Linked DNA regions of Homo sapiens. The protein of the gene in region 3 purifies or fractionates together with the protein of the main gene of each other region. This does not show direct contact. Each region holds a gene or a part of one and is shown on either strand. Other genes may lie near its edges. The genes, in order: IRF2, MYH14 and IRF8.

Region 1 (3,726 bases), on a different chromosome or scaffold from region 3:
CTCCTCACTGCAGCTCTGTCCACAATGCCCACATGGGTCCTGTCTTTCAATCCATGCCAACCAATTCATTTAATTCCCAGTGCAGAGTTGACCGTTTCCAAAAGGTCTTCCTACATTATCCCCATCCCACTCAGATCCTTCCTTTACCTCTCACCCCTTTAGGACTTAGATCCTGGATTTCTAGAGTTGCATCTGCCATGTGGGTTACTGTAGGTGGACAGATCTGGGGTGCTCCCCATGATCCTCACCTCCTTGGATTCACTTTCTTTGGGATTGCCTCCCTTGAGTGTGGATGGAATGTGTCTGCTTCTAACAAATAAGATACAGCAAAGGGGATGAAATGGATGTGATCCTGTGTCCATGATCATGTTACATAACTCAGAAACCTGCTGGGAGAGGAAACACTCTGCCTTGCTGGCCTTGATAAAGCAAGCAACCATGTTGGGAAGGCTCCTATGGCAAAGAACTAAGGACTGCTTCCAGCCAACAGCCAGCAAGAGACTGAGGCCCTTAGTCCAACAACCTGCAAGAAACTTAATTTTGCCAAAACCACATGAGCTTGGAAATGGACCCTTCCCCAGTTGAGCCTCAGATGAGACAGCAGCTGTAGCCAACACCTCCATGGCAGGTTTGCAAGACTCTGCAGCAGAGGACCCAGCTAAGCCACGCCTGGATTCGTGACTCAAAGAAACTGTAAGATCCAAATGTGTGTCGCTTCAAGCCACTAAGTTTGTGGCTGCATGGCTATGGCAGCCAATCAGTTGCCATCCCCATTTGGCCTGCCAGCTGTGAGACACTGGGCAAGTTTCTCACCTTTACTGAGCTGCAGTTTTCTCCTCTGTAAAATGAGGGCACTGCCACCATCTAAGAGGATTACATGGAGAGTGAGTGAGAGGGTACATGGGAAAGGCCTAGCAAGGGCCTGGCACACAGCACACACTCCATACATCAGCACTGCTTAACACTGGGTTTGCACAACAGGCTGGATTAATGGAATCGAAGTCTAGTGATTACACATGACCTATGCTTATAAAAAGCTTTTTAAACGTAAAAACATTTTGATTTTGTAAAATAAAATATCAATGGTGTGCGATTATTCCAGTGTCCATAACCATTGAGAAATGCAATCACAGAGGGCAGAGCCTGTGCAATATTTAGGCATTTAGAGATCACTTAGCCTGAGCCATTCGTTTTACAGACAAGGCCTAAAGAGTAACTGCAATAGCTTCTCTTCCTGATGGCAACCTTTAACTGCCTTTCCTCCTATTTAGTTCCAATGCTGAATTTAATAACCCCATACCCAAAAGTATGGTAAATTTTAGGTGACGTATATTTCACAACACAAGAAAATCCAAAAGTGAAGCTCGTGTTCTAAAAGAAGCAAACATTTAGGGAGCCCTATGGGTCAGTGCCATGTCAGAGGCTTTGCATGCAGGTCTCACAGGGGTCCCACGTCAGCAAGCAGCTGCTCTCATCCCCCGTTACGCAGAAGAGCTCTTATGCTCCAGTGCCTTCCAGCTTTCCACCCGGTCCCTGCTGAGGGGCTGGCCTCTGTCTCACATCTTCCTGGTGGCAGAGCTGGGATGAGATGGCTCCAGCCCAGACAGAGCCCTTTCTTCCACTGAGAGCATTAGCCCCAGACCAGGCTCTCTATCAATTAAAGGCAAAAGAACAAATGGACAAACTGTGCCACAGGTGCATTCCTTAAACAAGGAAAGTAAGAATGTGGACTCCACTGGTCCCAGCCTGGAGTCTCTGGGCCTGTTTCTCAGCCACTGTTCTCCAGTAACTTCACACAAACCTGAGTGATCGCGGTGGGCTGGCCATGAGCATGCAGAAGACAGATCTCTCCACTCCTCGGACTGGGCATGTTTCCCCAAAACACCCCGTGCTGGGAGCCACAGAGACCCAGAGAAGCCCTCAGCCTCAGCTGACGACGATCCCAGCTATGAAGATGAGCTGACGTTGCCGAGCACAAGAATTGTTTCCACGCAGAAACACATGAAAACCAACAGAAAAAGAAAATTCCCCTCCTCAGAGAACCCTCGTGCTGGCTCAGTATCCTGAGGAGGCAGGAATCGGAACAGCCACTCCCAAGAAGAAAAATGAGGAACAGAGATGTTGAGAAACTTGCCAAAGTTGCCAACTGAGACAGCACAGAGGAGAGAAAACAAAACTGTACTTCTGATTCCAGGGCCTGTGCACTGCACACAGCAGCCCTGCTTCCCTGGTGTTCTGGTCTCTGACAACATTTCAAGATCCGCTTTCCATTTTATGCTTAGCTTTCTTTGTGCTCCAAAGCCAAGCTTTCTCTTCCTTTCATACGGGTTCAGATGCTCTTCACTCCTAATGACTCTCCATAAATATCACTGTCTTCTTTTCCTTTCCCCTCCAAATACAAACAAAGATACGCAACCAAGCATGCTTTGGGGGCTGGGATTCCAGCACAGCCCCAGTCGCAGGTGCAGGAGGGGCTGGAAGTCAGATCCTGGGGTAAGGCTCCCGGGTAAGACCTTGCACCGCCCATGAATGTGACCGGGATGCTAACTTCCTTTAAGTACCCAGTTTTCAGCTTCGGGGAAATAGCTGCAGATAAGAAAAGATACACATGCTCCGAACTTATGTTTTCAGCTGACACAAATGCGAGTTAAAGAGCGTCGTGTCTAGATTAAGTTCCACAGCATCTGAAGTCGTCAGGAAGATGCGCCCTATTAGGACACTGACAGTTTCAAAAAGGGGCCTTCAGTACCTTAGCTTAGGAGCAGAGAACCCTGAACCTCCCCCTGAGGGGAGCAGTTCTCTCTGTGACCCCAGAATCGGTGGCTCCAAGTGCTTTGTTGGATGCACTGCGCCCCGTGTCCTCTGTTTCCTTGGTTTGACCACCATTGCCACTTCCACGCTGACTTCTTACACAAGGGAGCTGACTGCAGCTGGGCCTCCAGATCAGTGTTACTATCGAACTATCAACATACGTTGTCATTTCATTTTCCCTTTTGATTAGTTTGAATTTGTTTTTGCTTTTTGTTTATTACTTACTTCGAATACAATGGAATAAAGAAGTCTGGAGTTGCTTCTCCAGCAACTCCAAACAAATGAAGAAGCTGAAGGTGTTCGTACAGTACCAACAGGCACATGAGTAATTCACTTAACCTTTCTGGTCTCAGTTTTCCTGAAAGCATCTAGGGTGGGAGGGAAGGGGAGGATTTGGATTAGATGATCTCAAAAGCTCTTCCAGTTCTAGGGTGACACTGGTTGTAGGTTCACTCTCTATCCAGTCCAGTTTTTAACGCCTCGCTGAGGATATACATATTGTCTAAGCAGGAACACTGCGGGAAGGGAGAGGATGCATTTTCACCTGAAAGGCTTTTTGCACTCTGACATTCTGCTACACTTTCTGGAAGGCTCTTGTTCAGCAAGTTTGATTTGAATTTCTTTCTATTGATCATATTCTCAATTACTTTCACCAGGAGTAAATTATTTTCAAATCGGAATCCTCTTAATCTCAAAGCGATTGTGTCTTTGCTCTGCCCAACAAAATGCAAGCCTGGTGTGGTTTCCCGAAGGATTCAAAGCCTTTACTGATGGCTGCTGGTCAGCAGGCGATCTCCACTCTCTCATTATAGCCAGTGAGTCCTTCAGATGATGTTTTCTTCTCGAGTCTACTCTCCAGCCCCTCTTACCCATCCTCCCCCACCCCATTATTCTACTGTGGTTTTCTTCTACTAA
Region 2 (3,726 bases), on a different chromosome or scaffold from region 3:
TGGCTTCCCCTCTCCAAGCTGTGGGAAAAAGAGGGTGATAATCCCTACCTCACAACCTTATGTGGATGGGGAGGGGGTCAATAAGATCATATTGGAAAGAAATTTAGAACAGCACCCAGCAGAGAAAGCAGGTACTCACTAAGTGCTAATGATCTTTATTAAGGCCCAATGTGCTTCCTGTCTGGAATTCTAGAATCTTCTCTCTCACATTCATTTCTTAGGCCCCAAAAGTCTGGCTCCCTGGCCACCACCTTAGCTCAGGCCCTACCACTTTTTCTCCTGAACTTTCTGAATAATCTTCCTAGTGCAATGGCTAGGACCTGGGGTCTGCAGTCACAGTGACCTGGTTTCAAGTTCTAGCTTAGCTGGTTCCTAGTTGTGGGGCTTATGTTCAAATCCTGCCCCCTAGTCTGAGGCTCAGCTTCCCCACCTGCAGAGCGGGGATGACAGCAGATACCTTACAAGGTTGCTGGGAGCGCTCAGAGTATTTATTAAAAGGCAAAGAGTGGCCGGATGCAGTGGCTCACCCCTGTAATCCCAGCACTTTGAGAGGCTGAGTTGGGCAGATCACTTGAGCTCAGAGGTTCGAGCTCTGACAAACATGGTGAAACCCCAACTCTACTAAAAATACAAAAATTAGCTGGGCCTGGTGGCAGGCGCCTGTAGTCCCAGCTACTCAGGAGGCTGAGGCAAGAGAGTTGCTTGATCCCAGGAGGTGAAGGCTGCAGTAAGCCAAGATCATGCTGCTGCACTGCAGCCTGGGCAACAGAGTGAGACCCTGTCTCAAAAAATATATATAAATGAATAAAAGGCAACTAGTGGATCCATGTTTTGGATGTCATCCTGATGTCTGTGGCCTTGGGTGAGATGTGGGGGAGTGGATCATGTAGAGGCCTCTTTTCCAGGGCTAGTAAAGGTGTTTGAGGATTTGGAAAGGGCCAGTGCAGACTGGAGAAGACACCAACCCCATGCAGGGTCCGACAGCCCTCGATTCAAATTCCACACCTGCCACCACAAGCTGAGGGACCCTGAGCCAGCCACTGCTTATCTCAGAGCCTCGATCTCCAAGTAGGAGTGGGACTTCACAAAAATATTCTAATCTTCCGCTTTGTGAACCTCAGAGGGGTGGATGTTGGAGCAAAGCTGTGAGACCCCACCAGTCTAAGCTAGAGTTTGGAGCATGACTCTGGAACCAGCTGCCTGGGTTCAAATCCTGGCGTGATTCCTTCATGGCTGTGGGTCACTTAACATCCTGAACATCAGGTGATATCAGCAGTCCCTGGCCCAGAGGGAAGCTGATAACTCACACGCCACACTTAGAACAGTGCTTGGCACATCACGAGTGCTCGATTAAATATTTGCTAGCCTCCTCTTATTATTATTTTTCATTATGATTGTCCATATTCCTTGTCAATCTCTCTAATCCTGTTTGCTCTTTTGTTCAATGAAATTAATAACCCCTTGGCTGCCCATTAGAACCTCCTTGGAAGCTTATTAAAAATACCAATGTTCATGTCACAGCCCCAGAGAGCTCGACTGAAAGTTCTGGGGTGGGGCTCCGTCACTGGTATTTTCTAAGAATTCCCCAAATGATTCTACCATAGAGGTGGGGTTAAGAACCACTGCTCTACCCCATCCGTTTGCTGTAAAGAGTTTTAAAAATGCAACGAACCTCCAATGCTTAGCACAGACGTGGGAAGACTACCATAGTCAACCTAAGTATCATCAATCTCTTCTCAATGGGTTTTTGTATTGTTTCGTTTTGTTTGAGACAGGGTCTTGATTTGTTACCCAGGCTGGAGTACAGTAGCGCCATCACAGCTCACTGCAGCCTCCACCTTCAGGGCTCAGGTGATTCTCCCACCTCAGCCTCCCAAGTAACTGGGACTACAAGAGTGTGCCACCATGCCCAGCTAATTTATTGTATTTTTTTTTTTTTTGCAGGGATGGGGTTTTGCCATGCCCAGGATGGTCCCGAACTCCTGGGCTCAAGCAATCCACCCACCTCAGCCTCTCAAAGTACTGAGATTACAGGCATGAACCACCATTCCCAGCCCCATCTCAATCTTAAGAGGCACCACAGCAAAGTGAGAAGACAGACTACCTGGCTCTGTCAGGTCTAATTGTGTGACCTTGAACTCTCTGTGCCTCAGTTTTCTTACCTGTAAAATGAGGATCAGATGCTTTATAATTCTGAAAATGTACAGAGGCAATGTATTTTAGAAAGCTTGGAAGAATGGTTGGTAAATGTTTAATAAATGTTCATTTTTATTGTTATTAACTCTCTCTGGGCCTCATTTGCCTCTTAGGTAAAATGGTAATAATAATAGACTCTATCTTTCCTATGGTGAGATTGAATGAATTAATAGATAGGCATTTAGCACAGAGCCTAGCATAAGGTTTTTGCTTTTTGTCTTTTTTTGAGACAGGGTCTTGTGCTGTCACCCAGGCTGGAGTGCAGTGGTATCATCATAGCTCACTGCAGCCTTGACCTCCCGGGCTCAAGTGATCCTCCTGCCTCAGTCTTCCTAGAAGGTGAGACTAAAGGCACGGGCCACCACCACACCTGGCTAATTTATCTTTTTTTAAGAGATAGGGTCTCGTTTTGTTGCCCAGGCTGGTCTTGAACCTCAAGCAACACATTTCTATACTCAGTGATTCACATTAATGATTGTCACACATCTGTTTCCGTTCCTTAAAACTCGGGATGAGCTATATCTGAGAAATTGGAACGTTTTATACTTTAGGAAAATAATACAGTTTATCTACCATATGTATCATGCAATGTCCCCAGTAGGTTCCGAGGCTGTCCTAGTAATCCAACAATTCATAATTTGGCAACCATGTAAGTGTAGGAACAGTCACGGGACATGGGATACAGATGATAAACAGCCTCAAGTTAATGCAGGGGAGCCGGGTGGTGGACCTGGTTCCCCAACCGGCAGCAACTCCGCCGCACGCGCCCCCCAGCAGGAGCCCACTCACGTAGATGAGGCCGGAGTAGTACCGCTCCCGGAGGTTGTGCAGGACCGAGGCCTCGTTGAGGCAGGTCAGCTCGGCCATGTCCTCGGCCTTGCTGAACTTGGGCGGGTTCATGCGCTGGATCTGGTCCCGCGGCAGTCGCAGCCGCCTCCCGCTCTCCGCCAGCTCCACCTCCGCCTCCTCCTCGCCTTCGTCCCGCAGCGCCGCCGCCTCGAACCCGTGAAGCTCCGAAGGCACCCACACGAGACGCCGGGCCGTCCACTCCACCTGCGGGGAGGTGCCCGAGCCAGGCCCGCCACCCGCGCTGGGCCCGCGGGGCGTGAACAGGAACGGCTGGGCCGCCTCGGGCACTGGGCCCGGCCTGGGGGGCGCCTTCCGCCCGGGCACCGACATGGTCACGGCTGCCATGGTCTGCAGGGGCAAAGAAAGAGGGTGGGGGTCAGATGGGGCTCCGTCCCCCGGGCCTCCCTTCCCTACCCCAAATTCCCCAGGCAGCCACCTCTGCCTTCCTTTACCAGACCTCTTGCCATACTTCTGCAAAGTGGGTTAACAGACCCAGCTTACTCATTTCATTCATTCACCTCTCTAGGCACTCATTCATTCTTTAATAAGCTAGGCTGTGAACCAGGCTCAGAGGGTCAGTTCTTTTTTTTTTTTTTTTTTTTTTTTTTTTTTTTGAGACGGAGTCTCGCTTGTTGCCCAGGCTGGAGTGCAATGGCGTGATCTCAGCTCACTGCAACCTCG
Region 3 (3,500 bases):
CCTCAGGAACAATTCGGTAAACTTTGTATGGCTCGGAAATGTCCAGTTGGGACCGGTCCGTCACTTCCTCAAAATCTGGGCTCTTATTCAAAGCACAGCGTAACCTCGTCTTCCAAGTGGCTGGTTCAGCTTTGTCCCCTTCTTTAAACTTCCCTTTAAAAACTGCCCAGGCCTGAAGAAAGAAACAGAAGCACATTAAATTCATGGCCGACTCCAATCACAAATATCCGTCACCATGACCAGGACCCCACACATCCTTCCCTTCCCATGAATCTTTGTTGGCCATCAACTCTCATTCAATTTCAGGACCCAAAGAGACTCCAATCAGATGTCTTGAGTCTTTTCACATCTGGGGACCAGATGTGGAAAGACCCAAGCCAGGGAGGGGGTCCCCCAGGTTCATACAGCTGAGTCAGAAGTCGAACCCAGGCTGAAGGCTCCTCCAACCCTGGAGTGCACCTTTTAGCCAAGCCCTTGCCTGGCTGAAGAGCTGGAGACACCTGAGGTTTACACAGCACAAAGAGGAAGTTGCATATGGTTTCACCAGAGCGTTCAAAACAAAGAACAAGTTGTTGCTTTTTCAGATCAACCCCTAAAATTTAGCATGAAAAGGGAACATTTGCAAAAAGTCAAAATGGTCATCCATCGCCCTGTTACTTTTAATAGAAATTTTGTTTTGCATTTTTGCATTTATTCTAGACTTTTCCCCCCAGGTGCTGTTTAAAATGTAATGAAGTACTTTCCCTTTAATGTGTGTGTGTTTTTTTTAATAGATCTGTTTTCTGACTTTTCCAAACCTTAGGATCTGAACTAGGACCAGAAATTCAAAGCTGAAATCTTAAAGTCATAATGTAGAATGGGGCAGTACAGATTTTAAAAAAATAAGACAGGTGAATGGACAGATTTTAAGCTTGCAAAATTGGAATACAGACACACCAACTAGGAGGTAACCACAGTCAGATGAGAATTATCTTCGGTTTCAGGAAAAATCAGGCAGTGTCCTCCAGCCTAAAATGATAGGAGATCTGTAGGGACATCCCGATCCCATTCAGGAAAATGCAATTCCAAGAGGTAAGTAACTTTCGCAAGGTCACCCAGTCTGGGATTAAATGCCAGCTGTACCCACTTCAGGAAAATGCAATTCCAAGAGGTAAGTAACTTTCCCAAGGCCACCCAGTCTGGGATTAAATGCCAGCTGTACCCACTTCAGGAAAATGCAATTCCAAGAGGTAAGTAACTTTCCCAAGGCCACCCAGTCTGGGATTAAATGCCAGCTGTACCCACTTCCAACCCAACAGTTTCCCCACCACAGCAAGTGTTCTCAGGCTTAATGCATATACCAACCCCCTGCCCCTGGGAAGCTTGTGAAAATGCAGATTCCTGGGCCTTGCCCCTCAAGATTCTCACTGGGGAAGGGAGGTTGGGTCTCGGTAGCTGTCTTTTTTTATTTTTTATTTTTATTTATTTTAGTTTTTTTATTTTTTTGAGACGGAGTCTCACTCTGTCACCAGTCTGGAATGCAGTGGCGCAATCTGGCTCACTGCAACCTCCACCTACCAGGTTCAAGCGAATCCTCCTACCTCAGCCTCCCAAGTAGCTGGGACTACAGGTGTGCACCACCATACCCAGCTAATTTTTGTATTTTTAGTACAGACGAGGTTTCACCATGTTGGCCAGGATGGTCTTGATCTCTTGACCTCGTGATCCGCCTGCCTCGGCCTCCCAAAGTGCTGGGCTTACAGGCGTGAGCCACCGCGCCCGGCCCAGGTAGCTGTCTTTAGCCAGTATTCCAGGGATTTGGATTTAGCTACCCAGGAGACCACACTTCCAGAAACTCCATCATGCCCCCATGAGTCACAGCTCCTTTAAAATAGCCCAGACTGTTTTTCCTCTCAAAAAAGACAAGAATGCTTACTGTTCAAGGCCAATGCTGCCTACTTTGTTGATGCAAAATGTTGCACCTCTACCTGGGGTAAAGAGACTGGAAGAACATTCCCATTAGTGAGCATAAGTGGTAGTTTCCTCATGTGACATTGATGTAAAACTCCCCTCTAAAACTATTTCTTAAAGCACACGGTCTTTAATGCTCTCTTCATTGACTGCATCACTGACCGGGCATTAATTTGGGTTTTGTTGCTGTTGTTTATTTTTAAAGAAATAAACCAGCAAACCATGTACTAAATCAACTGTAGTTTCAAATTTTTATTACTTTAAATCAGGGTTTCCCCACCGTGGCAAGCCTGACATATCAGCTGGGACCCTTCTTTGTGGCGGGGTGGTCCTGTGGATTGTAGAATATTCAGCGGCATCCCTAGCCTTGACCCACCAGATGCCAATAGCACCCCTCCCCTAGCTGTGACAACCAAAAAAGGTCTCCAAACATGGCCAAGTATTCCCTGGAGGGTAAATCATGATACCTCCCCCACCTGAGAACCACTGAGTTAACCCACATCCCAAACGGGCCTTGAAATGCACAGATTTCATGGCAACGTTGTGATCCGCTGGTACACATACGCAACCGCGGTGCCTGCAAGGCACTGCCATACTCACTCGTTCACGCCAAGCTCACACTCACCCCACGAGCAAGTCCAGGCCACATCATCCATCACAGCAGGGCCCACGGCCAGGAAGCATCCAGGGCCACCATCGGGTACCTGGCTTGCCGCCTGCCCTGAACTCTGTGACACAGCAGGCACCTGGCCCTCTCCCAGCCTCTCTGGCCAGCATTAAAAGGTCAACTTAGCTTGATGATCTCTCGAGATCCTTCTTGAGCTAGAGCAAAAACTAGACATGAGAGTGATTTCAGGGCCCCCCCACCCCTGCCGCCAGCAACAGTCACTATGGCTCATTCAGCCTCCACCATAACTTATTTCTCCTGTTGACGCACAACTCAGGCTGACAGCACTGAACTAAGACCAGGAGGTCTTCCTAATTTAATATGATTGTTTCATGTTGCATTTTTTTAATTAAATGCTATTTTTCCCTTCAAGGCCTGCTGAATGAGAAATATCTGTGCTACTAAGTGAGCTTTAACTCATTCAGGACTGTTACGATGCCTGGAATAACCATGAATCATAATCCTCACTTAACTAGATTTTCCCCCCTTGTCGTCATGTCAAGAAGGTAAAGTACTTTTTAAAAATTAAATGAGTTGCTATCAGGGCCTCATCAGTGTACTCAGGGTCGGTACAAAATGAGCTCAATGTTTTTTCAATTTCTCTTCTGTGATCTATACCATGAGGCCGGCCTCAGGATGATGCCTGCAGACAATGAGGGATTTTCTGGTATAAGTGGCCCCTTTTACCATCCACTTATTACGGAAGAAACCAAACTCATAAATTTCTTTCTTAACTCCTAAATTGTTGAAAGGTTTTCTTTGAACAGTTGAAAGAAACAAGTGTCTACATAACCGGAAAATCCCTAAGATGGCTCTACCTGACCGAGGTTGACTTCATCCAACAGCCAAAGATCTATCCGGCCAACGTCACAGAGACAGGCCT

The links.
Region 1: the proteins of IRF8 (region 3) and IRF2 purify together in Homo sapiens (affinity purification with western blotting, with the first as the bait; one study listed by BioGRID). This does not show direct contact.
Region 2: the proteins of IRF8 (region 3) and MYH14 purify together in Homo sapiens (affinity purification with mass spectrometry; one large-scale study listed by BioGRID and IntAct). This does not show direct contact.

Annotation. Positions count from the first base shown.
Region 1 is NC_000004.12:184,391,029-184,394,754, forward strand, and holds part of IRF2 (interferon regulatory factor 2), read right to left. Parts: intron 1-3,726. UniProt on the Homo sapiens protein: Specifically binds to the upstream regulatory region of type I IFN and IFN-inducible MHC class I genes (the interferon consensus sequence (ICS)) and represses those genes. Also acts as an activator for several genes including H4 and IL7.
Region 2 is NC_000019.10:50,210,030-50,213,755, reverse strand, and holds part of MYH14 (myosin-14), read right to left. Parts: intron 3,394-3,726; 5' UTR 3,391-3,393; coding exon 2,986-3,390; intron 1-2,985. UniProt on the Homo sapiens protein: Cellular myosin that appears to play a role in cytokinesis, cell shape, and specialized functions such as secretion and capping.
Region 3 is NC_000016.10:85,905,662-85,909,161, reverse strand, and holds part of IRF8 (interferon regulatory factor 8), read right to left. Parts: intron 173-3,500; coding exon 1-172. UniProt on the Homo sapiens protein: Transcription factor that specifically binds to the upstream regulatory region of type I interferon (IFN) and IFN-inducible MHC class I genes (the interferon consensus sequence (ICS)). Can both act as a transcriptional activator or repressor.